Linked DNA regions of Homo sapiens: regions 2 and 3 are each linked to region 1. The links come from fine-mapping of genetic effects on gene expression. A gene starts in region 1. Each other region holds a variant in brackets. All regions are shown on one strand. Distances are from middle to middle. Region 1 holds the start of XPNPEP1 (X-prolyl aminopeptidase 1). Region 2 overlaps XPNPEP1 (X-prolyl aminopeptidase 1). Region 3 overlaps XPNPEP1 (X-prolyl aminopeptidase 1).

The links.
Region 2: its variant is fine-mapped to the expression of XPNPEP1 in adrenal gland (GTEx, PIP above 0.99).
Region 3: its variant is fine-mapped to the expression of XPNPEP1 in T cells (TOPMed, PIP above 0.99). The same link has a PIP of 0.9 or more in blood mononuclear cells and whole blood.

Annotation. Positions count from the first base shown.
Region 1 is chr10:109,919,805-109,927,981 of GRCh38, reverse strand. XPNPEP1 (X-prolyl aminopeptidase 1) reads left to right here and starts at 4,471. Exons shown (of 21, transcript NM_020383.4): 1 at 4,471-4,580. The coding sequence starts at 4,549. RefSeq lists a silencer at 4,256-4,795.
Region 2 is chr10:109,881,095-109,889,271 of GRCh38, reverse strand. XPNPEP1 (X-prolyl aminopeptidase 1) reads left to right here. Exons shown (of 21, transcript NM_020383.4): 6 at 677-769; 7 at 1,080-1,223; 8 at 2,931-3,026; 9 at 5,124-5,205; 10 at 6,630-6,840. Among named protein-coding and RNA genes, the nearest start is that of XPNPEP1, 38 kb to the left of the region's middle. The variant C/T (reference allele first, on the strand shown) is at 4,822.
Region 3 is chr10:109,860,426-109,868,602 of GRCh38, reverse strand. XPNPEP1 (X-prolyl aminopeptidase 1) reads left to right here. Exons shown (of 21, transcript NM_020383.4): 21 at 3,291-3,837. The coding sequence ends at 3,419. Among named protein-coding and RNA genes, the nearest start is that of XPNPEP1, 59 kb to the left of the region's middle. The variant C/T (reference allele first, on the strand shown) is at 3,592.

The DNA of each region.
Region 1 (8,177 bases):
CTTTTATTCTAAAAAAGTACTTACTCTGGGTGTAATGGCTCGTGCCTATAATCCTAACACTTTGGGAGGCTGAGGCGGGAGGATTGCTTGAGCCCAGGAGTTTGAGACCAAGGCTGGGCAACATAGGGAGACCCTATTTCTACCAAAGGAAAAAAAATTAGCTGGGTGTGGTGGTGTGTGCCTATGGTCCCAGCTATTCAGAAGGTTAAGGTGGGAGGATTGCTTGAGCCTGGGAGGTCGAAGCTGCAGTGAGCTGTGATCACACCACTGCACTCCAGCCTGGGTGACAGAACAAGACCCTGTCTCTCCCTCCCAAAAAACTCTGTATCTATATATCCGTATCAGTATACATAGTTATGGATATGTTATAAAAATGGGATATTGGCCAGGCGCAGTGGCTCACGCCTGTAATCCCAGCATTTTGGGAGGCCGAGGTGGGCAGATCACAAGGTCAGGAGATCGAGACCATCCTGGCTAACACGGTGAAACCCCATCTCTACTACAAATACAAAAAATTAGCCAGGTGTGGTGGCGGGAGCCTGTAGTCCCAGCTACTCGGGAGGCTGAGGCAGGAGATTGGTGTGAACCCAGGAGGCGGAGCTTGCAGTGAGCCGAGACTGTGCCACTGCACTCCAGCCTGAGTGACAGAGCGAGACTCTGTCTCAAAAAACAAAAAACAAAAAACAAAAACAAAAAAAGGGATATTATATTGTTTTATAATTTACTTTTTCCCTTTGTTAGTTCGTGATTGTCTACATTAATAAAATGATATCTACTCATGCATAAAATTCAATGGTACAGATGGTTACTTAAGTAAAGTCCAGTGGGACATCTGGTTTAAGGTGTTGCAGGATGCAGCACTCAAATAACGTTTTGAGGTCTGCTTCTCCCCTTTCTATTTGCTCTGTCTTCTGCTGCCTTGGTGCCATTCACATGTTGCACATAGAGGCAGCAGTTCGAGTATATGCATCCAGGATCTTGGCTGGCAGAAGGAAGCAAGACTCTATTCCCATAGCAATATCTGATCCTATCATTGTAGCCTATGCCTGGGTTACATGATACACTCTTGGAATCCAAGTGTTGCACTTGGATAACATACATAGAGAATGGGGAAAGGAGGGAAGTAGGGAGAGGTGGGCCCCAGAGGGAATTGGTAGGATGGTTATCAGAAGGAGAATGAATGAATGTCGGGTGGCCCAAAACACAGGTCCACAATCTATACACGGACATTTGGAACTTGTTTTACATTGGTTTCCTAGGGCTTTCGTAACAAAGCAACACAAACTGCGTGATTTGAAAACAAATTTGTTGTCTCACTGTTCTGGAGGGCTGGAAGTCCAAGATCAAGATACCCACAGGGTTAGTTCACTCCATGGGCTGTGAGGGAGAATCTGTTCCATGGCTCTGTCCTAGCTTTCGGCAGTTTGTTGGCAGTCCTGGTGTTTGTTGGCTTGTAGATGCATCGTCCTGATCTCTGCTTTCGTGTTCACATGGTGTTCTTCCTGTGTGCACAGTGTGATTTCTTTTTCTGTTTTAAATAAAGACACTTCATATTGGATTAGGGATCCTTCCTACTCTAATATGACTGCATTTTAATTAATTACATCTGCACTGATCCTATTGCCAAATAAGATCACATTCGAAAGTACTAGGGGTTAGAGCTTCAACATATGAATTTTTGAGGTCACAATTCAATCCAACATATTTCTACGCATTTAATATTTCTGGCTACATCTAAGACCCACCCGGTCTGGGTGTGAATGCCAAAACCAGCTGTCTCCCTCTTTCTGCTGTGTGGGCTAGGAGACTGGATGAGGCCACCTCTAGGGTCCCTTCCAGATAACTTCGCGATTAAGTGTCAGGGCTAGGAATCCATCCTGCTGTCTGAATGTATGTTACAGTACCACCACTTACTAGCTCAGGGACTTTGGGCAAGGGGCTTAACCTCTGCAAATTTCAGTCTCCTCAACCAGTAAAATGAGGATAAGAGTCCTTCACCCATTGGTTTGTTGTGGGTTAGACACATAGCCTTCAATGAATGTCAGGCAGTGTGACTGTTCCACTTCTTTGAGGATGCAAGGACTGTAGAGCCAGGAGAAGAACCTATATAACTCCTGGTGTTCTCATTCTCTCATGGTAATTCAGTGCTATAACTTCTCCAGAGGTTCTCTTGTTAGAACTTCAAGAGCGAGGCCGGGCACAGTGGGTCATGCCTGTAATCCCAGCACTTTGGAAGGTCGAGGCCAAGGAGTTCAAGACCAGCCTGACCAACATGGTGAAACTCCGTCTCTACTAAATACAAAAAATTAGCCGGGTGTGGTGGCGCATGCCTGTAATCCCACCTACTTAGGAGGCTGAGGCAGGAGAATTGCTTGAAGCCGGGAGGCAGAGGTTGCAGTGAGCTGAGATTGTGCCATTGTACTCCAGCCTGGGCAAAAAGAGCAAAACTCCATCTCAAAAAACAAACAAACAAAAAAACTTCAAGAGGGGAAAGGGTTCCTTTTTTTATCTTGCAAACAGGAACTCAAATCCAGCTCAGGGAATGCAAGGTATTTCTCTCTCTCCCCTGAAGCTGGATGCCGTAAATTCTGAGCCAACTCCTTTTCTTTTAGGCAATGTGATTATTAAATACCTGTCCCCCTTAAGTTTCACTTATCTCTCTCTCTCTTATCTCGTTTTCTCTTATAACTTGATTTTTCCCACCAGCTTTCAGATGTGGGCTGGAACCAGTATTTTATTTACAATCTCTCTGTTTTTGGCTTCATAAATTTGGGGAAATGCAACAGATGTGTGCTGCTTTCCCAGGAAGCACATCTTTAGTTTTTTCATGCTTTAACTACACAGTCTAATTCGGCTTGCCTAAATGCTTATTCAATAACGACTTTGAGTTCTTGCAGGTAGCAGAACCTAGCTGATACAGGTATATTAGGCCTTACACCAAGGTCAAAGCAGGAGGAGGTGCCATTCACCTTTAAAAAAATGTGGTCACTTTCATTTAGTGCCAGGTGTTGTTCTAAGCACCAGGGAAATAACAATGAACAAGAGAGCCACCATCCCTGCTTTTGAGGAGTGCACATTCTGAAACATTCATTTCTGCAGAAAATATATAATGAGAACTTATGACATGTTAGATATTGTTCATCATTAAACAAAACAGAAACAATCTGCACTGATGGTTTTGTTGTGTGCGTGGGTGGTGGCAGGAGAGGGGGAAGAATACAGTACACATAAGTACATTAAAAGAATCCTGTTAAAAGGTGGTAAGTGCTATGGAAAAAATGAAGTAGGGTAAGGCGGATTAGGAATATTGGAATGATTTACAAATTTAAATAGGATGGTCAGGGTAGGTGATACTTGAACGAAGACTTGAAGGAAAATGAGGAAGGGAGCCTCAATATTTGGGGGATGAGCAAGTCCAAAAGCCCTGGGACATGAGTGTACCCTGCTTTTTCAAGGAGAGCCAGGAGGCCATTTCAGCTGAAGAAGAGTGAGGAAGGTGAGAACAGGAGGAAATGTGGCTGGGGGTAGATCAAATGGAGCTTTTATGCTGCGTGAAACGAGAAATTAATGGAAAGTGCTGAGCAAAGAAGTGACCTGGTGTCACGCTTCAAAGGACTGGTCTGGCGGCTTTGTTCAGGCTGGACTGTGCAGGTGCGGGATGGTGAGGGGATATTTGGGGGGCTGCTGTAACCACACGGGTGGGGTGGTACAACCCTCTGATGCACATCAGAGGGTAGGAGGTGGAGGTGGTGTGACACGGCCAGATTAGGGGTCTATTTTGGAGGCAGGGCCAACAAGATTTTGCTGGCAGATTAGATGTGGGGTGTGAAAGAGAAGAGGCAGGGAGGATTCCTAAATTTTGCCTCTTAAGAATAGAGTAGCCATTGATTGAGATGGCAAAGAAGACTGGTGGAGAACGTTTTTGCTTTGCTTCGGTGCATTGGGAGTTCCAGGAGTTCCGTTTGGACGTTAAGTTTGAAGGGGCTATTTACTATCCAAGCGGAGCGGAGAGCTGGATTTTGAAGCTCTCTGGGAACATACTTTTGGGGACATTTCTAAAGCTTGAGACCCTGTTCCAAAGCCTCGAAGACCCTGTCGAGGTTCTTCCGGAGCCGGCCACGTCCCTCTCTTCTCAGCCCTCCTAAATTAAGCCGGAAAATCCCTGGGACAGTAGCCCCTTTATTCGGCAAAGCCCTTTTTCCTCTTTGAGGAATGACGACAAAAACGAACAAAAATGAAGACACTCAGCAGCACTGCGTCCTTTCCCCGCTCGCTGCAGGGAGAGGCAATGCGGACTGGTGTGGAAGGGCAGGCCCCGCTCTGGGCCGCAGGCGCTGCGGCCGCGAACCCCAGGTCCGGGAGTGTGGGCGGGGCCTGCGTGTGGGCGGGGCCGCGGCGCCAGCGCCCGCCACGGGCGAGGGCGTGGCCGACCCGGCGCTAGCCCGCCCGCCCGCCCGCCGGCTCTCGCGCCTCCTTCGCGCCGGCCCTTCCGCGGGTGATCAGCTGGTCTGCGCTCCCCTGACGTGGGCTGGGGCACGTCACCGCCGAATGGCAGCCTCCAGAAAGCCACCGCGAGTAAGGTGAGGGCACTCCGCCGGCAGCCGGCGTCCGGGCAGCGTGCAGCCCTCGCTGCGCGGCCGCGCGTGTTGCACCTCGGCGGGCAGGGACGCGCGGGTGAGGAGCCCGGCCCGCCGCAGTCTGGCGAGGGCCGCGCTCGCCGGAGCCCCGGAACAGGAGCCGGGGGAAGGGGTCCATGAGGCCGGGCGAGATCCGGTTCGTTTCCGGAGGGTCGGTGGGCACGGGGCGGCCCGAGTCTGGTTCCTGGACGCGTATGCCCGCGGAACTGCTGCACTCGGCCTGAGGGGGCGGCGGCCGTCACAGTTCCTGGCCCGCGGGAAGGCCCCGTTCTTGGAGGAAGTTGGCCCCTCTTCGTGTCCGGGGAGGTGGGCGAGCCTTTGCCCTCGCTTCTGTTACCCAGGAATCTAAACCTCAAGTTACAATCTCGACAATACTGACTCCTGCAATTCACTCTACTGATCTGTCACCGCCACAAGGATAGACGGTCGCGGGCCCCTCCCTACCCAAATGGTTTCAGAGGCTGTGTAAGGGAATATTTTGGTATAATCTCCAGGAAAATCCCCCCAGTAGCCTGCCCTGGGCTCTCCTTGGGCATAGGAGGGTGAGACAGATAATTTCCCGGCCTCAAGTTAAACATGTTTTAGTTTATTCCCCTGCCATAACCAGGATGTACTTATCAGAGCCTCTGACAAAGTGGGAGACGGAGAGAGGTGTTCAGAGTTCATGGAGGCCACAGGCCAGACTCCCTGGCCATCCCCAAGGGGTCACCCACCTGCTAACCACTTGAGACATGAATGCACTCACTTTGCAGCATGGCCAGGCTTTCTTGCTGAACACAGACCATGGCTCCTGCTTGTGTTTGTGAGTAGGGGGGTCCCAAACCTACCTTGACCTGGATTTGCCGTTGCCACAGCTTGTTAAGGGTGAGCAGAAAACCAGACCCACCCTGTGGAAGTATGTGGGAGGGGTGGAGAACTTCCATCTGGAAGGAGCTTCCTGTAAGTGAAGTGCTGGAAATGGAGTCAGGCAAGTGGATAATGATGAGTTAGGCTGTAGGCCTCAGGTGGTCTTTAGGGGGCCAAGGTGATCTGTGCTAGATTTATAGACTCACAGCCTTTTAGGAGCAGAAGAGTCTTTTCTACACCAGCTGGTAGAGTCTTTTTTACCTCAAAGGAAAGTCCAGTGAAAGGCTGAGAGAGGGGAAGCCATTTTCCACAGGCGCCTCCCCTACTGGTAGAATTTGAGTGCCATTCCTTGTAAAAGTGAGCACTTCTTTCAGTTTCGGTAATGGAAACTGAACTCAAATTGATTTACCTAAAATGGGGTTGAGCTGGCTTCTAGTGTGGCTGAATCCGGGAGCACCACCAACATTGGCTTCAGACTTCTCTTTATCATCTCTTGGCTCTGATTTATTCAGTATCCGCTTCATTCTCAGGGAGACTTTCTCCTTATGGCAGGTTATGACAGTTCTAGGCTGACAGCCCCAGCAGAGAAGTTGAGCCCTCCTTCCTAATGGAGCAGAAGTCCCTGATCTGATGCTCACTGGGCTGCCTTAATTCTCATGTTCATCTGTGAACCAATCATTATGGCCAGAGGGAGGGATTGACCTGCTTTGGGTCCCAGAGCCTGTTAGGTGTTTGGATAAGACTGCTTTGAACCCCTTGGGCTGAAATGGAGAGGGTACATTCTCAAAAGGAAAACCAAGGTTCCCATCAAAAGGAGGGATGGATTCTGGGTAGACAAAGACAACATTGCTTACTTCCCAACCTTAGAACTTGTTCCAGTTTACCCTTGTCTCATCCACTAGGTGTGATTGAGCATCTTGTTCCTTGTTTTGCCCCATGCTGAACGCTACACATGTGTGATTCCCATGAACTGGGGGTTGCAGGGGGGTGAGGTATTCAGAACCCTGCCAGAATTTCTTGGAAAAAGAGGGAGAAGGCCTTTTCTAGTGCTACCATAACCATCTTATACAAAGATTGAAAGTGCTCTGCATGCTTCTTGCCCCTTACCCACTTTGTGGCTCATCATGAAGTTGAGAAGGTGTAGGTCGAAGAAGTTCTGGGAAGGGTAGGAGCACTGAGCTGGATGTTGGGAGGCTGGAACGCTGGTTCTAGCTCTGTCAGCAGTTAGCTGTGAGGCCTTGAGCCAGTCATTTGATCTTTGTTTCTTGGTTTCCTGGTCTAGAGGAGGGAATTGAGTTGGATAGTCCCTGAGGTATATTCTTCTAGTTCTTAATATTTAATGATAATTGTGCTTTGACAGAGAACTTAAGAATTTTATCTGTCCAAACAAGTGAAAGGTGGATAGATCTTGGACTCTGCGGAGACCAAGATACGACAAGAACAGAGCAGCTGTAGTATTGAGCTGCTTCGTAGCTCCTGTGATCCTGACAGAAAGGTGGAGGTGTTGATGCTCACACAGAGAGTTTGAGCTCACCTGTCAGACCTAGTTTCTGGTCTTGGCTTTGCGGCTACTGAGTTATATGGCCTATGGTAAGTTATCTTTGTTTTTTTATTCTGTAAAATGAATGAATAGGATTACCTTAAGGTAACCTTGGCTAGGCACGGTGGCTCACACCTATAGTCCCAGCACTTTGGGAGGCTGAGGTGGGAGGATCACTTGAGGCCAGGAGTTTGAGACCAGACTGGGCAATGTGGTGAGATCCTGTCTCTTCAGAAAATTATTAAAAAAAAAAAATCAGGTTGGTGTGATGGCACATACCTGTAGTCCTAGGTCCTTGGGAGATTGAGGCAGGAGAATTGCTTGAGCTTAGGAGTTTGAGGCTGCCATAAGCTAAGATTGTGCCACTGCACTCCAGCCTGAGTGACACAGCAAGACCCTGTCTCTAAAAAAATGATAACCTTCCACCTCTGTAGTCATGTGTCTGAACCAGTCATTGGGATCAGTTACTTACCATCTTAGAAACTTACGTATGAAGTAATGGGAAATTCGGTGAGAATCTGACTTGTATCCCTGTCCACAAGAAAGAGATGTTATAAAATTTATAATGGCTTTATTGAGATATAATTCACTTATATACAATTCATCTGTTAAAATGTACAATTCAAGTTATTAGTATAGTCACAGAGTTGTACAACTATCATCACAATCATTTTAGAACATTTTCTTCATCCCCGAAAGAAATCCTGTTACCTGTAATCAGTCACTCCTCACCTCAGCCCTTGGCAACCACCAACACTGCATGTCTACTTCCTGTCTTTACCGATTTGCCTATTCTGGACATTTTATGTGAATAGAATCATATACTATGTGGTCTTTTGTATTAGGCTTTTTCCCTTAGCATGTTTTCAAGGTTCACCTATGTCATAGGTGTGATTTCTTTCTTTTCTTTCTTTTTTTTTTTTTAAATGAGACGGAGTCTTGCTCTGTTGCCAGGCTGGAGTGCAGTGGCACGATCTTGGCTCACTGCAGCCTCCACCTCCCGGGTTCAAGTGATTCTCCTGCCTCAGCCTCCTGAGTAGCTGGGACTACAGGTGTGCACCACCACACCCAGCTAATTTTTGTATTTTCAGTAGAGATGGGGTTTCACCATGTTGGCCAGGATGGTCTCTATCTCTTGACCTCATGATCTGCCC
Region 2 (8,177 bases), 39 kb after region 1:
GAGATGGTGCCACCGCACTCTAGCCTGCATAACAGAGTGAGACTCTGTCTTCAGAAGTAAATAAATAAATAAAGACAACCGGACAGGTGCCTGTGTGCCTCTCTTAAAATCTTCGGAAAGATCTCTTTGCTGCCAAGACTTGTGCTTAGCCCTCTATTCAGAGGCTGGTTATGGGGCAGCGGCCTTCTCTTGGCCACCCTGCCCTTGCAGATGAGGGGCGGGCACTGGGAGCATGTTATCACCTTACCTGGTATGTGATATGTGGGAGTCTCCCAGTTCCCAGACTTCACCAAATCACTGCCCAAATTCTCATCAAGTGACCAGTAGTGGGGAAGTGACTGAACGCTGAGGAGACAATCTTTGTGGTGACGCCATGTGTGTACGTGGCAGTGATCCCCAAGATATTTTTACAAGGGGTCAAGTGAAAAATCATACTTTTTTCCCTTCTGTCTCACCCTTGTCTTATGTTTTTCATACACAAAAACTTACACTTCTCCCTCTCTGTAGCCTTCCAGGATTAAGGGAGGTTCAGATTTTCTAAGTCCTGTCAATCCACTTTAAAGAAGCTGCTTAATAAAGACCCTGCTATCATGATGTTAGAGAATTGTATCTTTCTGGTGGGATAATGAGCGTGGGCCCACTGGGAATTGTTTCTTATCATTTCTTCCCCCTGTAGGTCTGAAGGACACACCAACTCAGGAAGACTGGCTGGTGAGTGTGCTTCCTGAAGGATCCAGGGTTGGTGTGGACCCCTTGATCATTCCTACAGGTAAGTGAGCTTGGTCCCTTTCTGCTTGGGTAAGGAAGTGGCTTCTAGATTCCCCTCCATTCTCCTCATTTGCTTGTGGGGTGTGGAGCACTGGGGGGCTCAGCATGACTGATTTTATAGTAGAGGTCAGGGTGAAGAGAAGAGTTCCACTGGTGGTGAAGATGTGCTTTTACAGTTCCTCATCCTGCACACCCAGCTCTGGGCCATGGCAGGACCACCTTTCTGAAGGTTCTGGACTTTCAAGGCCCTGCTCCCTGCCCTGCTGCAATGGGCGTTCGGCTCATGGCTGGGCCACAATGTGTCTCCTCAGATTATTGGAAGAAAATGGCCAAAGTTCTGAGAAGTGCCGGCCATCACCTCATTCCTGTCAAGGAGAACCTCGTTGACAAAATCTGGACAGACCGTCCTGAGCGCCCTTGCAAGCCTCTCCTCACACTGGGCCTGGATTACACAGGTCAGAATCAATGGTTCTGCCCAGCAGGGCCCCTGCCATTGTCCCCCCACCTCTTGCTATTGTCTCCAGCCTCGTCCTCCGAATCCAAGTCGAGTTGGAGCTGACAGGAGGATTTTGCCCTACTCTGCCCCAGTGGGATATTTGAAGAAGCAGGAGCTTTGTTTGTTTCCACTGTTGCCACCTACTTGCCACTTAGTTTGGCTTTGGTTATTTTCGCAAAGCTCGTTTGGGTGGCTTTTTGGGTGCTGCTGAAAAGACTGAGTTTTTTTTATCCACTCAGCTGCTAACTGCCACTCGAACGTATTTGATATTGGAAATAGAGCATAGAGGTTTCTAGGTTCCATTTCCCTTCTTATGTCAGCATTTGTAGATTTACCTTCCTAGGCCTTTGTCCTCCATCTTGTACCTTCTGCTTTAGAGGCTTTGGGGTGTGGGTGTGTTTCCTTGGCCTGTGCGATAGTGATGGGTAAGCAGCATGTTCTCTGAACCATTGTGTGGATTTATGAAGCAGTGAGGGGGCAGAGAGAGAGGCCTGGAGGTGGGGCTGCAGGGGAGGGCGTCTTGCTGTAGAAACAGAGGTAGATGGGGGATGGCTGTGGAATGTAGGCAGATTGCCCAGAGGGGTCCTGGGAAGAAAGCGTGACAGCCTAGATTCTGGGCCAAGTTTTAAACAGCATTCCCGAACTGATCTTCAGTGCAGCCCTGGGTGTGGGGGCAGCCCCAGCCTGCTTTCTTGTGTGACATCCTCACCAGAGGGGTATTGCGGAATGGGGAGGATGGGTCCAGTGAGTGGCCCAGGGTCAGCTAAATATTTTCCATCAGCGTGGTTTGAAGTTTTTTTCACTAGAGCAGAAGCTCTGACTTGTTGCTTATAGGAGAGGGGAGAGCAAATGTTGCTGTTCAGTACACATTTGGGTGCCTACTATCTGCAGGATGCTGTGCGAGGTGCTGAGTGAATAAGACAGATGCCCACCCTGCTCACAGGTGGCTGTTCCCTGAGTTATGAATGCTGCCCTGGTAGGGTGGTTGTGGTGGCAATGGGGTGAGCTCCTCTAGCACCACGATTTCATCTTGCAGAGCAACAGAGAGGCCTTGGCAGTGTCTGAAAGGGCAAGTGTGATTTGGAAGTGGTAATCACAGTGAGTCAGACTACAGGGAATTCCTAGGTCTTAGCACTGAAAGGCAAGTCTTGCAGCCCCCAGGAACATCAAGTGGTGGGTGCTGTTCCCCTGACCCCTGAGACTGGGTGAGTTCCCTTTGCTGGGTAGTGTGTTGATATAGGTCCCTGTGTGTCCCCTGTTGCATCAGTATTTACAGTAGTGTGTTAATTGCTGGTTTAATTATCTGTCTTCCCTTCTATATTGTAAGCCCCATGAAGACAGGGACTGGGTCTGGCTCAGATCTGTAACCACAGTGACCAGCAGAGTGCCTGGCACGTATCTATGCCTGGCAGATCTAGATGTTACACAGGCATTTGTGGGATGCGTAAATGAATGAATTTTACTGGTGAGGCAATCAAGGCTCACGACAGTCAAGTGGCTTGGACACTTCTTGTATAGGGCTTGAATCCAGGCCTCCTGCCTGTTTAAGTAGCGTGCTCCTGTAAGAAATGGTGCTGATTAAAGATGTTTAGGGTAGGTTCTTTCACTGGGTTCCTACTGCTTTCTGGGACCAGGGCTGGAGTTAAAGCACATTTGTTTCTTGCAGGCATCTCCTGGAAGGACAAGGTTGCAGACCTTCGGTTGAAAATGGCTGAGAGGAACGTCATGTGGTTTGTGGTCACTGCCTTGGATGAGATTGCGTGTGAGTGCTCTGGTTTCGCTGTTTGGGCATGTTACCCGATCTCTCCTTTGGGTCTCTGGGTATCTGTGTGTTCATGCCATTCAACTTTCTGAGTGGCCAGGGAATAAGAAGAAGACTACGTCACCAAATGGGTATAGGAGATGCCAACTAGGATGAAGGAGAAAGAATTACAGGGAGCTGGGGAGGGGAGTGAGGCTTGTCCAGAGCAGTATTACAGCTGGGTGATGCCCACCTCTGGCCAGTCCCTCAGGACCATGGCACCTCTGAGGAAGGGCATTTCCTACAAATATTTTATGTCTGTCAGCCTCTGTAGGTGTAGAAGTGGGCTCATAGGAGAGGCCTTCTTTCTTTACACTTGTCCTGTGGTTTCCTAAGGTCTTTATAGTGAGAATGTTCTGGGAGCATTTCTACCTCAGAAAACTAGGAACTAAAAGTTCCTCCCCAAGCCCTTTGATGTAATAGTAGTTTCTCAGTCTTTGGACCTTAACCCACCTTCATGCAGTTGTTCAGCACCTTCTTTCATCTAAAACCTGACGGAATCTGGTTGAACCTTCCTGTCCTGTCTTCTGGTTTCTGAGTGGATTTGACCCAGGGCAACTGAGAAGAGGCACTGCTTTATCTTTTTGCCTTCTCACTAGAGAATGAGACCCTACTGCAGTGTCCTCTCTCTTCAGTCCCTGCATCTTCCATCCACAAAACATTGTCAAGTGTGTCAGTGACTTACATCCCTAATTAACTTAATGATCTCAACGTCAGAGAAAAACACCTGTAAAACTTTTCTCTCTCCCTGATTGTAACAAAAACACAATCCCATGATAGAAAACTTGGAAAATGCAGAGGAAGTAAAAAGAAGAAAAAAAAAATCACGTATAAATTCTGTTACTTAGAGATAATCAGTGTCAATATTCTATGCATATATCATTTTATAGCCTGATTTTTTCACTGTATCAGTACACTATAAGCATATACAAGCATAATTTTAAGTGAGTATTAAATACTCCATCATGTGGTTATACCATAATTTATTTAACTGTTTCCCTAAGGATGACCTTTGGGTTATTTGCAGTAATCCTGTAATTTATTATGATGCTACCATCAAAATCTTGGTTCATGAATCCATGTCTTAGTGTTTGATAATTTTCTTCCTATTTCTGGTTGGCTTTTAGGGCTTTTGACTCATCTTGCCCTTTGTCTGCCAGAAAGTTTGCACCTTTGTATTTGAATTTGTCTGTCTTGCCACACCTGAACACCAGGTACTGTCATTTTTAAAGAAGTGCTAGTATGATAGGTAAAAAATGGTGCCTCATCACTTTAAGAAGCCATTATTTTAAAATAGAGGTTATACTTTTAATGCCCAGGCGTTTTTTTGCTCTGATCCTCATGAGAACAAGTGACGGAAGCTGGAAGTCCTGGGACCAGAACTGTGCTCTCTCCTGGTCTGTCTAGTTCTCAGACGTTCAGCAACATCACTGTTACTGGCTGTCCGCAGGTCCCCCACCCAGTCGTGGTGCCAGAGCAGACCCATGGGTGGGCTGCAGGCTCTGATTTCATTGGTGAGCTGCAGCCTTGCTGACTCACTGCTTTTCTTTCCACCTCTGACAGGAAGCTCCGTCTCCATGGGGCTCACTGACCCTTACAGAGGAGGCTTGCCTGGCTTCCCTTGTGGGAGGGTCTCAGTTTTTCTACCCTAGGTCATCTGCCTCAGAAGGGAGAGAGTGCTCGTCTCCTTCCTTTTTATTTGGGAGCGCCAGAGGTTTGTCGGCTTCAAGGCCAGGCCTGGCAGGTCACCACTAGG[C/T]GGATCATTTCAACTCCTTGTGGGGGCAGTTCTCAGGATTTCAACTAATAGCTTTTATTCCCTTCTCCGGGCAGTGATGTGGAAGCCTGAGAAACAGCTCTGGTGCCATCACGTGGTGGACATGAGCAATTGCAGCTCAGAGGTGGAACCAGACGGGAGTCAGGCTTCCAGCCTTTCTGTGCGATTCCACTGAATCCTTGCGCAGCAGCTGGACTCCAAGCTGAAGCTCTTCCCTCCCGCTACAAGCGACCCCTTAACATCTTAAGTCAGACAGGTGACAGGGATTTTGATTTCTTTTCTAGGGCTATTTAATCTCCGAGGATCAGATGTGGAGCACAATCCAGTATTTTTCTCCTACGCAATCATAGGACTAGAGACGATCATGTGAGTGTTTGCCCTGCATCTGGAACTCCCTTCCAGAGCTCCTCAGAGCCCTAGTGTGCCCTTTCTGGTCCTGGCCCACCCATCACTGCCTGATATTTCACTGATGTGCTTCTTTTTTCTTGCCCTTTTAACATTTTCCCTTCTTGTTTTCCTTAGCAGTAGGTGTTTATTTATATCCTGCCTCTCTTTGAGCCCCCAAAATGGTTTGAAACGCATGAAAGTGTCTATAGTTCGGGCCACCCATTTGATGTCAAGTTTTCTAGCAGCCAGTGTTAAGGGGTATATATGCTCAATTATACAATTCTGGGTCCACAATGCAAATAAACCCAGTCATTTTGAAGGTCAAAAATAATATGGGAAAACCCCTCCAACTACGCTTTGTTGAATTGTCAGTTTATTTTTTCAAAGCATTTCGTGTGGCCTTCTTTTCATTACTGTTCTATTTCAATAGCTTTTTGCATTAAGACAACACATTTATTAAGTGCTGGTGATGTGCTAAGGGTCTCTGTTAGGTGCTAGGGTGACTGAAACAGGACGGGGTCCTTGGCTGGAGTTGGGGAGATGAGCATGTCCTCTTTCTAAAGTATTTGGGCACATAAGTGGGCACCAGTCTGCTTGTGGGACAGATACAGGTGTTACGAGAGGGGCCTGACCTAGACTTGGAGATCAGAGCAGACTCTTGGGGAAAGTAATATTTTGAAGCAGAGAGTAAGGATAAATGTGGGTGAGTTAGGTGAATGGCAGGGTGAGGAGGGGCGGGGAACCATGATCCAAGCAGAGGGAACAGCATTTTCAGAGACTCTGGACAGTAGAGAGCACAGTGCATGTGGAGGACCTGAAGTGGTTCAGTGAGGTCAGAACATAGTGAGGCCAGAATGTGAGCAGGGGCCACAGAAAAGAGAGGCCTTGTGGGCCACATTCAGGAGCTTGGGTTCTTTTTCTGAACAAGAATAGTGGGAAGCTATTGAACGAATTTTTCAGAGGGAACCACATGTTAGATGTACAAGTTGTAAAGAATATTATGACTGAAACATCGGTAGATGGGGAAAGACTTAGAGGCTGTGGCACTAACCCAAGTGAGAGATGGTGGGACCTGAACCTGAGTGGTGACTGGGCGAGGCTGTAGATGAGCTGGACAGATTAGATGGAGATTTAGGCTGTGGGTCCCAAGGTCTTAATGAAGGACGGGAAGAGGGTCATCAGTGAAGGAGGACACTGCCCAGATTTCTGGCTTGGCAGATTGGGTGGATGGGGGCAGGGAATGCACCTTGGAGGGCAGGATTTGGGAAAGGAGTGGGGAGGAGAGAAAAGGGGCTTGGTTTTGGTTGCCAGGAAACAGAGCCTGATGTGTATGTGTGTCTGTGTTGCCACCTCTCACTCATGTTCCCTCCTTTTTCTGCCACCCACCTCTCCTCCATCTGCAGGCTCTTCATTGATGGTGACCGCATAGACGCCCCCAGTGTGAAGGAGCACCTGCTTCTTGACTTGGGTCTGGAAGCCGAATACAGGATCCAGGTGCATCCCTACAAGTCCATCCTGAGCGAGCTCAAGGCCCTGTGTGCTGACCTCTCCCCAAGGGAGAAGGTGTGGGTCAGTGACAAGGCCAGCTATGCTGTGAGCGAGACCATCCCCAAGGTTGGTGACCCCACTTTGGCCCATCTAAACTCTGCCACCCCCTTCCCAGTTCTGGTATTGTCTTTGGAGCACAGGCAGATTTCTGAGGCTGCCTGTTGGATCAGAACTGTGGTCTCCATGGATGAGGCCTTAAAGCTGGAGCCATAGCAAGAGCCTGAGGGCCCTTATTGCTTGTTGAGTCTTGTGTTTTCCAGAGTGTGGCATGAGAGATTATTTTAGGTGGTACACATTATTATTTAGGTTTGCTTAAATATATCTGTTTTAACAGCATTTAGCATATAATAGAAAAAACATAACTAGCATGAGTTCATGATATAATTATTTAAAATAAAGTTGAATTTAATAAAGCTGATTTAAAGATGGTCTAAAGTAAAGTACTAAGTGAATAAGGGTACAGCAGTTAAGAAGCTAGGGTAAAAGCTGTGCAGGTGGTATAAGAATGCTTGAAGCTTGGGAAATGCTTCTCTACCCCCTCCTTCTGCCGCACCACATTTTATAGCTAAGGACACTTGAGGCTCAGAGAGGATTGGGGAGTTGGGGATTTGGGGATTTGTCAAATTCAAGTGATAGTGATAGCCTTGCCCTTTACTGAGCCCTTGCTGGGCAGTGCTAAGCAGCTGACACTTGTTGCCTCATTTTCATTAGGGTCTGGGATGGGACTGGAATCCAGGCCTCTTTAGAGGTAGGCTTTTCTACTGTCCTCCCCTGGGCCTCTGGCTGCCAAGTGGCCTTTGGCAAGCCCAGTGATGTCCTTTCTTCTCCACTGAGCAGTGGGGCATCCTGGGAAGAATCCAGGCCTGGCTCTCTAGATCTGGCTTGCCATTGTACCCCTGCCATCATCACACACAGTGTGACTCCTCCTCTCTCTCTCTCCTCTCTCTCTGGAGAGAAAGAGAAAAGGAGATAAGATCACAAAAGCAATTTTAGAAGCTTTGTGCAAGTGCCAGGTGTGCTGAGGCCCCTCTGCTGGATTCTAACTTGTTCTCAAATTGGAAAGGGTCTTCTCCAGCCCTTCAAGATCAGATTATTATCAGTAGCTGAGATAGGACCACTGGGCGGGAAGGGAGGGAGCAGGAGACCTCACTCATCAGGTCATGTGCATGGCTAGACAGGGAGAAAAAGCCCCCTTTGTACAGCAAGAGAAGGGTGATTTCGGTCAAGCTTTCAGTGTTAGTGAACTCTAACCACAACCACAGTGGCTTGGAAAGCAATGTCTTGCTGACGGCAGGCAGCCAGCAGTCTCAAAGAGCTAAGGGAGTGAGGGATGGAAGAGAGACACCTTGTTTGATGTACTTACTCTTTTTGGTTGAGCTTAAGCTCAGGGTCATCAATCAAAA
Region 3 (8,177 bases), 59 kb after region 1:
GTCTTGGTGGGCAGGCATGTTACTAGGGGAGGTGGAGACTACCTTAAATAGTTCTAATCCATCCTCTAAATCCTAAATTCTCTAATCCAGTCTCACTTTGTAATTTTTAAATTTAGAGGTCTAGGCCAGTTGAGTCTGAAAGCCCTAGGTTTTCTGAGGACTCCTGAGCTTTTCCTGTATTTGTTGGGCCTCCAGGTGGAGATAGTCCTGTTTCCCGCAGCCATTCTGGGGCTGTAGGGTTTGTGGGTGGAACTCGTATGCCATTGTTTGGCTGTACTATTCCTCCATAGCTGCAGTGAGGCGTGTTTAGCAAATATGAGCCTATGTGTGTCCCTACAAAAAGCCAGATGGATGGTGGGGCCTCTTGGCCACTGTACATACCAGATTGTTTTCTTGTGTTACATGAAACATTAAGGAAATGGAAAGCAAAATCTATTATCGTATGTCCTGTTTTCACACAGACAAGGAGAAAGATAGTACCAGCCCTTCTCGGTTACTACTGTGGTCACTCTGGGGCAGTGAAACCCTTCACAAAGCCTGGGGCACAACAGTGCTTACTTGCCCAGCTCAGAGGGTTATGGGTCTTAACTCCTTCAGACCCTGGACTGGTAAGGCCAGGTCAGATGGCAGTCCTGGGGACATGAGAAAGGCCTGAAGAATCACACAGATGTTCAAGGTCAGAGCAGAAACAAGGGTCAGAAATGGGGTAGGAACTGTTAGCACTAGACAGACAAAACAGTTCCCAAACCAGGAAGCTGGAAGCCAGGAGGACACAAATTCCAGAGCAAGGCAGGGGTCAGAAGTTCCAATGAAAAGCAAATGACTGGTGGGAGCCGAAGGCAGGGTAAGCACGGTGGGTTACTCTCGGAATAAGAATATTTTGTTATCTGAGGCAGCCAATGGCCTTTGAGTGCCTCTCAAGGCAGGAACATTTCCTCACTGGCGCCCACTTGGGCCTCGTTCTTGACACTGTAAAGGAAAGGGTCTTTGGGGGTTAAGGACCTTCCCTTCCACAGGAGCTGTGGAATGGGATTCTCCCAGCTAGAAGCCTCTTCTGCCTGTTCCAGTTCACAGGTGGGTGATGAGAAAGTCCATCCACTTCCTGCTTAGCTTTCCTCTGTGCTTGAGCGCCTCTGCTTAACCATCCGTGCCCTTGGTTCAGCTAAACATTCCCACTCACAGGACCCACATGGGCCTTGCTGATACCGGGTGGGTTATGCAGCTTGTAGATGGATATGGAAAAGGAAACTCAGCCTATCAGCACAATGTCTGGTGTGTCTCTTCAGCAGGAAGAGTCCTTCCAGTGTCCAGGGGCTCTTGTCCAGCCCCTGTAAGTGTTGCCTTAGCTGAGAGGAAATGAAAACACATAGGTGGGCATGGGACCCACCCTGCTTAGAATCCCTCTGCCCCATAGGAACCAGTGTCTCTTGTAATGGCCCTTGGGCACAGCTTCCAGGGACTTAGCAAGGGGCTTTCCAGTAATAAGTCATTTCGCACTCTTGGAAGTCCAAGGCTATGGATTCCTGCCAAGTAATTCTAGGTCATGCAGTCCTTCCTGTCCACATAAAGTGTACCCATCAGGAGGCATTTCTCCCATATGACATTCCCCTTTATCCAGGGAAGTAGTATATGAGGAAGTTTAAGCCAGGCCATTTTTCCTCGAAGGAGAATCAGTCTACTCCCGTGACATTGGACATAGACCAGGGATCTGTGTTACCCAGTGTTTCATTGCTGCACCTTGCATGCCCACATGATTGAACTATTCTTTCGGCCAGTTACTCTTTGTAGGGCAGATAATGTCTTCTTAAAATATCTGGCTTTTAAAATATCTGGTCATTTGCCCTTTACTATTTAGCCTTTATTTTGGAGTCACTTTAGGGAGTTTTTGGTTTGGGTCTGCATCGTCATCACTTATCACCAGATGGCAGCAAAGGACCTTGGTCAGATATGAATATGGCCAGCTGCAGACTGTCAGGGCCTTGTGCTGCTCCTCAGGCTCCACCGAGGCTGTCCACACTCCCACTTTTCCCTCCCTACTTCCAACCAAAAGGGCCATGGGCGTTTGGCTGTGGCCCCAGGCTTACACCAGGATGCTGCCGTTGCCTTACTGTTGAGCTGCTTTGGACAGTAGGCTGCTTTGTAGCCCTGCTGGCCTTGCTGTGGACACATAGCAGTTTGCCTGCTTTTGACATCCTCCCCTGCCCCCATCACTTCCCTGACTCCCAGAAGGGGCTACTAGGCTCTTCTCAGTAGGGATTGGAACCCTGGCTGGGTCACAGCCAGTTGGTAACACCACCCTATCTGTCTGCCCTCAGTCCCTTGTAATTAATGGGTTTGTGTGCCCATCCTGACCCCAGCTGGGCTTTGGTACCTGGCTGGATTGTAGTCCCTGAAAGCAGTACTTCTGTAACATCGCTGCCCTCCAAAATGGCCTTTGACTCATTTATGACAAGCACAGCCATGGCACTATCAGTCTCATCAGCTTCCAGACAGCTACCCCCATAGACAGTGATGAGAGTGGCTTGTTGTCCTCTTGGTAAAACCTGCTTCACTCCAGACTTCACCTTTTCCCGTATACAACCAAGGAGGAGAGTTCACCCTTTTTCCTGCCTCAGAGCTTTTGCCATCATGTCTAGTGGATCAGCCCCTGCCCAGGCACCAAGTCCTGCCAGCAGGTCCTTCCTTTCACTCTCTTTTTTGTCTCCTGCTCTTGTGGCATGTTGAGTTGAGAGTCTGAAAACTAAGTTTACTCCCAGCGCCATTCTGCTGCACCACAGTCTTTAACCACCGCAGGTTTTGGGTTCATCTAGGCAGCTACACTCAAAAGACACCCATGGGCTTGGCTGATCCTAGTTTTTTATTCAGCTTTTTCAGTGGATATAGGATATGTAGCCCAGTGTGTTGGCAGGACAGCTTCGAGTGTCTCTCTCAGCAGGAGTTCTCACAGAGTCCGGGGCTATTCCCCCACTTACCACCTCCCAGGATGGCTCAGGTTTAAGGGAATGAAGCCACACAGGTGGGAGCAGGAGCTACTGGCTTAGAGACTGCTGTCTATAATAGTAAACTGTTCTGGGAGCCTTTTCACCAGAAGCCATGAAGTCTGGTCCTATGTATTTCCGGGGAAACAGAACACAAGGAAAATACTTACCTGTGAGTAAGGAGAAAGGGTGTTGCACACCTTTTCTCTCAGCTTGTGATCTTAGCACATGGGGGCCTTTGCTGTTGACCTGTGTAGCCAGTTGTTAAAGATGTAGTGGTGAATACCGTGTCTGTCCTTCTCTTCCCTGCAGTGCGACTGGCTCAACAATTACCACCTGACCTGCAGGGATGTGATTGGGAAGGAATTGCAGAAACAGGGCCGCCAGGAAGCTCTCGAGTGGCTCATCAGAGAGACGCAACCCATCTCCAAACAGCATTAATAAATACCTCCCCGGTTTTGTTTTTGTAAAATGCTCTGGAGGAAGGAAGAAACGTGGCAGATCCCTGACATCTTTCCCCTTTCCTTTCCTTCTTCCCTACCTCCCCTTTTTACTTTAGACTTTAAGAAGAACAGAAAATCTTCTTATCCTCTTTGATATTTTATTGCAAACA[C/T]TCAGTCTTTTATGATTTTTTAATTGTTGAGAACAAGCCAAGAATAAAATTGCTGCACCAGAAGGAGGGTCCCTCCAAAGTTGAACACTTGGTGAAAGGAAGATGCCCCGACTTCTTTGGCCAGTGATGGGGAATCAGTGAGTGCTCCATGATGGTCATGTTCCAGGTGCTAGTACATCATTCATGATCACCTTAATGCTCATGAGACTATATTTATGATCAGTGAATAAAAATGTCAGAACTGTGCTTTGTCTTAGCTGTCTCTTTCTTCATGGTGCTGTCCCCCGGCATGTCGGGTGAGCTGATCTCCAGGGCTGCTGGCTCTGTGGCAGACATTTCCTAGGTGGAAGGGCCCCTTTGAGAAGAGACCCCTGGCCTCCCCGCACATTTGGGGGCTTAGTTGTAAGCTTTTTCTTTTCTCTAGAAAACCTAATATTATGGTGTTTTTATCTCAGTTTTTTTTCCTGATTTTAAAATATGTCATTCCTATGCAAAAAACAATAAAAATTATGTCAAAAGTCAGTTTTCCATAACTCACCCTATAGCAGATGCCACAAGTGTCTTACCTACATGGCCACAGCTCTCATTGTTCCGTTACTTGTAGGCAGGATTCTGTGACAAGTGCCTGCGACTCCCATTCTGCAGGATTTCTTTTGACTTGTATATGTGGGGCAAGCTCCAAGGGTTGGAGAGTTAATGTCCCTGAGATCTCAGACCATCACGTTTGGGGATGGGATGGGCAAATAGACTTCCTCATCCTTTGGCTAAGATATCAGAGGTATGTCTTACATTGTCACTCAGGGTTTCCCAGTGGGATTGAGCCCCACTTGCCCACCATGGTAACTTGCTCAATAACCAACCCTTTGTTTTCTTTCTTCTCTTCCATGTCCTACTTTCTTCCTGTCCCATTAGTGTTTCCTGGTACCATCCTGAATGAACCATTTACATGCAAATCCTTGTTTTAGGGTCTGCTTTTTTATTAATCCAACCTGACATACTCCTTAGATATAACCACTATTATCTGCTTTATATTTTTTGCTGACTCCTTTTTTTTTTGTATTCAAAATTTACTAAAATACTGATTATTTGTGTATGTATGAAAGAATATGCCATATATGAACATATCACATTTACAAACAGTGAATTATTCTGTACGTATACAATTTTATCTTTTAACTTGGCAATATTTTAGATTGAATTATTTTTAATGACTTAATTCCATCGTATGGTTATATTGTTTTAAAACTAGCCTCATTAACTTTTTAAAAACAGTAATACTAGCATTTAGACATAATTTTTTAAAAAATGTATTAGTCTTAAATCATATAGAAAACAAAAACTGGAATCACAAGCTATCAGTACACTAATACTGGTTTTTATAATTGCCCAATGTATTTATTTTTCTTGAGATCTTTATTTCTTCATACTGCTTTGGGTTACTGTCTAGTGTCCTTTCATTGTACTTTGCAGAACTCCTATAAGCATTTCTTGCAGGGTGGGTCTAGTGGTACTGAACTCCCTCAGCTTATGTTTACCTGGGAACCTCTTAATTTCTCCCTCACTTTTGAAGGGCAGTTTTGCTGGATATAGGATTCTTTGGTTGTCAGTTTTTTTTTTTTTTCTTTTAACATTTTGAATATTGGCCCACTGCCTTCTGGCCTCCAGAATTTCTGATGAGAAATCTGCAGGTAATCTCACTGAAGATCCCTTTTACGTGGTAAGTAGCTTTTCTCTCACTGCTTTCAAGATTCTCTCTGTTTTTGACTTTTGGAAGCTCGACTATAATGTATTTTTGTGTGTATCTCTTGGAGTTAATCTTACTTGTGGTTTATTGGGTTTCTTGGATGTTTACATTCATGTCTTTTACCAGATTTGGGAATTATACAGCCATTATTTCTTCAGATATTCTCTCTGCTGCTTTCTGCCTTCTCCTGGGACTCTAACAATGTATATTTTGGTCAGCTTGATGGTGTCCCACAGGTCTTCTAGGCTCTGTTCCCTTTAATATTTTTTCTGTTTTTCAGACTCAAAATTTCTGTTATCCTATCTTCAAGTTCACTGATTTTCTCTTTTGCCTGCTCATATGTGCTTTGAATCCCTCTGGTGAATTTTTCATTTCAGTTACTGTACTTTTCAGCTCCAGAATTTCATTTTGGTTTCTTTTTATGTTGTCTGTCTCTATTGATATTTCCTTTTTTTCTGTGGATTTTTCTTTTCCTCTGAATGGGCCATACTTTCCTGTTTCTTTGTATGCCTTGTGAGTTTTGGTTGACAATTGGACATTTGAATCTAATAATGTGGCAACTCTGGAAATCAGATTTTCCTCTTTCCCTAGGGTTTGCCCTTTTTTGTTAATGTGTGTTATTATTATTATTATTTATTGTTGTAGATAGTCTGTGGGCCAAGTATCAGCCTGAGGTATCAACTTAAGGTCTTCTCAGGTTTTTTTCTGAGCTTGAGCCTTTCCCTGGATATGTGCAGTCAGTCTCTAATTTCCCCTATATGTGCAGTTGTTTTTGAATGTCCTATTACTTAATGTCTGGCTCCCAACGAGGGAAAAAGAAAAATGAAGGGCAGGAAAAGGGTACTGGTCCTTTAAATCCTCTGGAAGTCACTTCAGCCAGAAGGGGAGAAGGGACTTCTAACAGTCGGGGGATGGGATGTACAGCAACAGTGGCTGCCCACGTCTTTGTCTGCGTCTCTGTGTTCAGAAGCAGTTACCAGAACACAGGTCTGCAGTATTTGGAGGGCAAGTTTCCTTTTGTTCATTTTGGCTCCCACAAGCTGTATGCCAGTTGCTCTGGGAACGTGTGCATAAGTTCCTGCCAAGGGGTTAGGAGTAGACATTGGTAGCTGCTACTGTGCTAAGAGCTGAAATGGATTGAAATTAACGTTCATTTACCATCCAAGTTGTCCTCTGGAAGTTGCAAGCGTTCAGTAGACTCCAGAGTTCTAAAGTAGTTACATCAGGCAGATTCTGCCAGTGCAATTGTTGTCTAGGTGGAGAGACACTTTCCGAGTGCTTCCTACCATCTTCCCAGAATCCTCTCCTTAAATCCTAAACCATATATTTAATTCGAATGGCTTTGACAAATGAATAAATATAAGCATACTTTGGCCATTTACCAAAGCATGGCTGTAAGTGCCCATTACTTTCTCCACCTGGCGGAGCAGAAAATGAAATGAAACAATCTATATTTACCATTCAGAACCAGGGTGGTCCTACATAGAGTGCCTAAAAACAAATGAACCAGCATTTGTTTGCTTTTCGTCTCCCACCCTCCTCTTTTTTTTTTTTTTTTTCTCTCAAGGATCATTGATTTCAATGTGCTATGTGGGAGGAAGCAAGATTCACTGCTGCCTCTCGGTATATTTCTAACGAGGTCAGGAAAGCATAGAAGCAGTGCCTCCCAATAATAGGACATATTTTGATCCATCAAAGATCAATTCTTGAATGCCTTTTGTCCATGCTTGGTCATATTTCTAATATGTACCATAACATTGGACTTAAAAGAGAAATTTCTCCCCAAATGATAGAATGTATTAAGCATGTTTCTCATCTGTCATTCCTCTGGAAGTTAGAAGATTTCCCTTAGGACTCAGGCTGTTGTCTTCTCTGATATCCCAAAGTCTTCTCTTGCTGAGGAAATGGGAGGCATGAATCGCAGTTGATTTGGAGTTGAAATAGTCGTAACTCAAGTGTGACGGCAACTCCACTGTCTGTTCATCAGGCTGTTAAACCTGTTCTTCCCCAAGGCAGCCTCAGAGCAAAGTTTGATTTAATTGGCTGTAGCCCGAGAAGCAAAGGTAACAGGTGCTGGGTGCTTGGAGCTTCCTGCCTGGACCTGCTTTGTCTTGGCATTAAGTCCAAGAGACATAAACTAGGCAAGATGGCCCCATAAGGATTGAGGACCAGAATAAAACTCTAATGTGCCAGAGCTCAGAGGGAAGATGAGGAGATAAAAATGTAGATAAAAAAAAAAAAATCACTCTTCCTCACTTTTAAATAAATGATAAAATAAATGTTGGGTAGGAAAATGGGCATTGTGTTGAATTTAAAGAAGGAAGCTGATCTCGTTTCTTTGTCTTGCTCACTGTATTCCCTGGTGAAGTTTTATGTATAAGGTAGGAGGATTCAAGGAAGGGGACAGATGTGGGGCCCCTGCTGTGAACACTCCAGGGACTGACTTGTGGGACGCTTGTTCGCCTTCTGGAAAGAGTCCATCTGTGCCTCCTGCCAGTGAGGGGGCTGCCCCCACCACCCCAGCTCTCACCACTTCTTTAGCTTGAGGGCTGTGCCTGGCATCTGGCTGCCTGACAGTAACCATCAGTTGTTCCTCATCAGGCTCATTCCCGGTTAGGGGTGGGCAATTGTGAAAGGAACCAAGGTTGAACTAACAAGCCATGAGGGAGGTGTTGCCCTCGTGTTTCCCAGCAACTGGGGGTTTATACCAGTAATGATATGAAGACAAAGTAGAGTGCTTTGGGGCATCTTTCAAGCACCGTTGGCCTCTAGCAAGAGACAAGATGGGGGACTGGGAGGGCTGCGAGAGGGGAGGAAGGATACTGTGCTTGCTAGTTCCTGC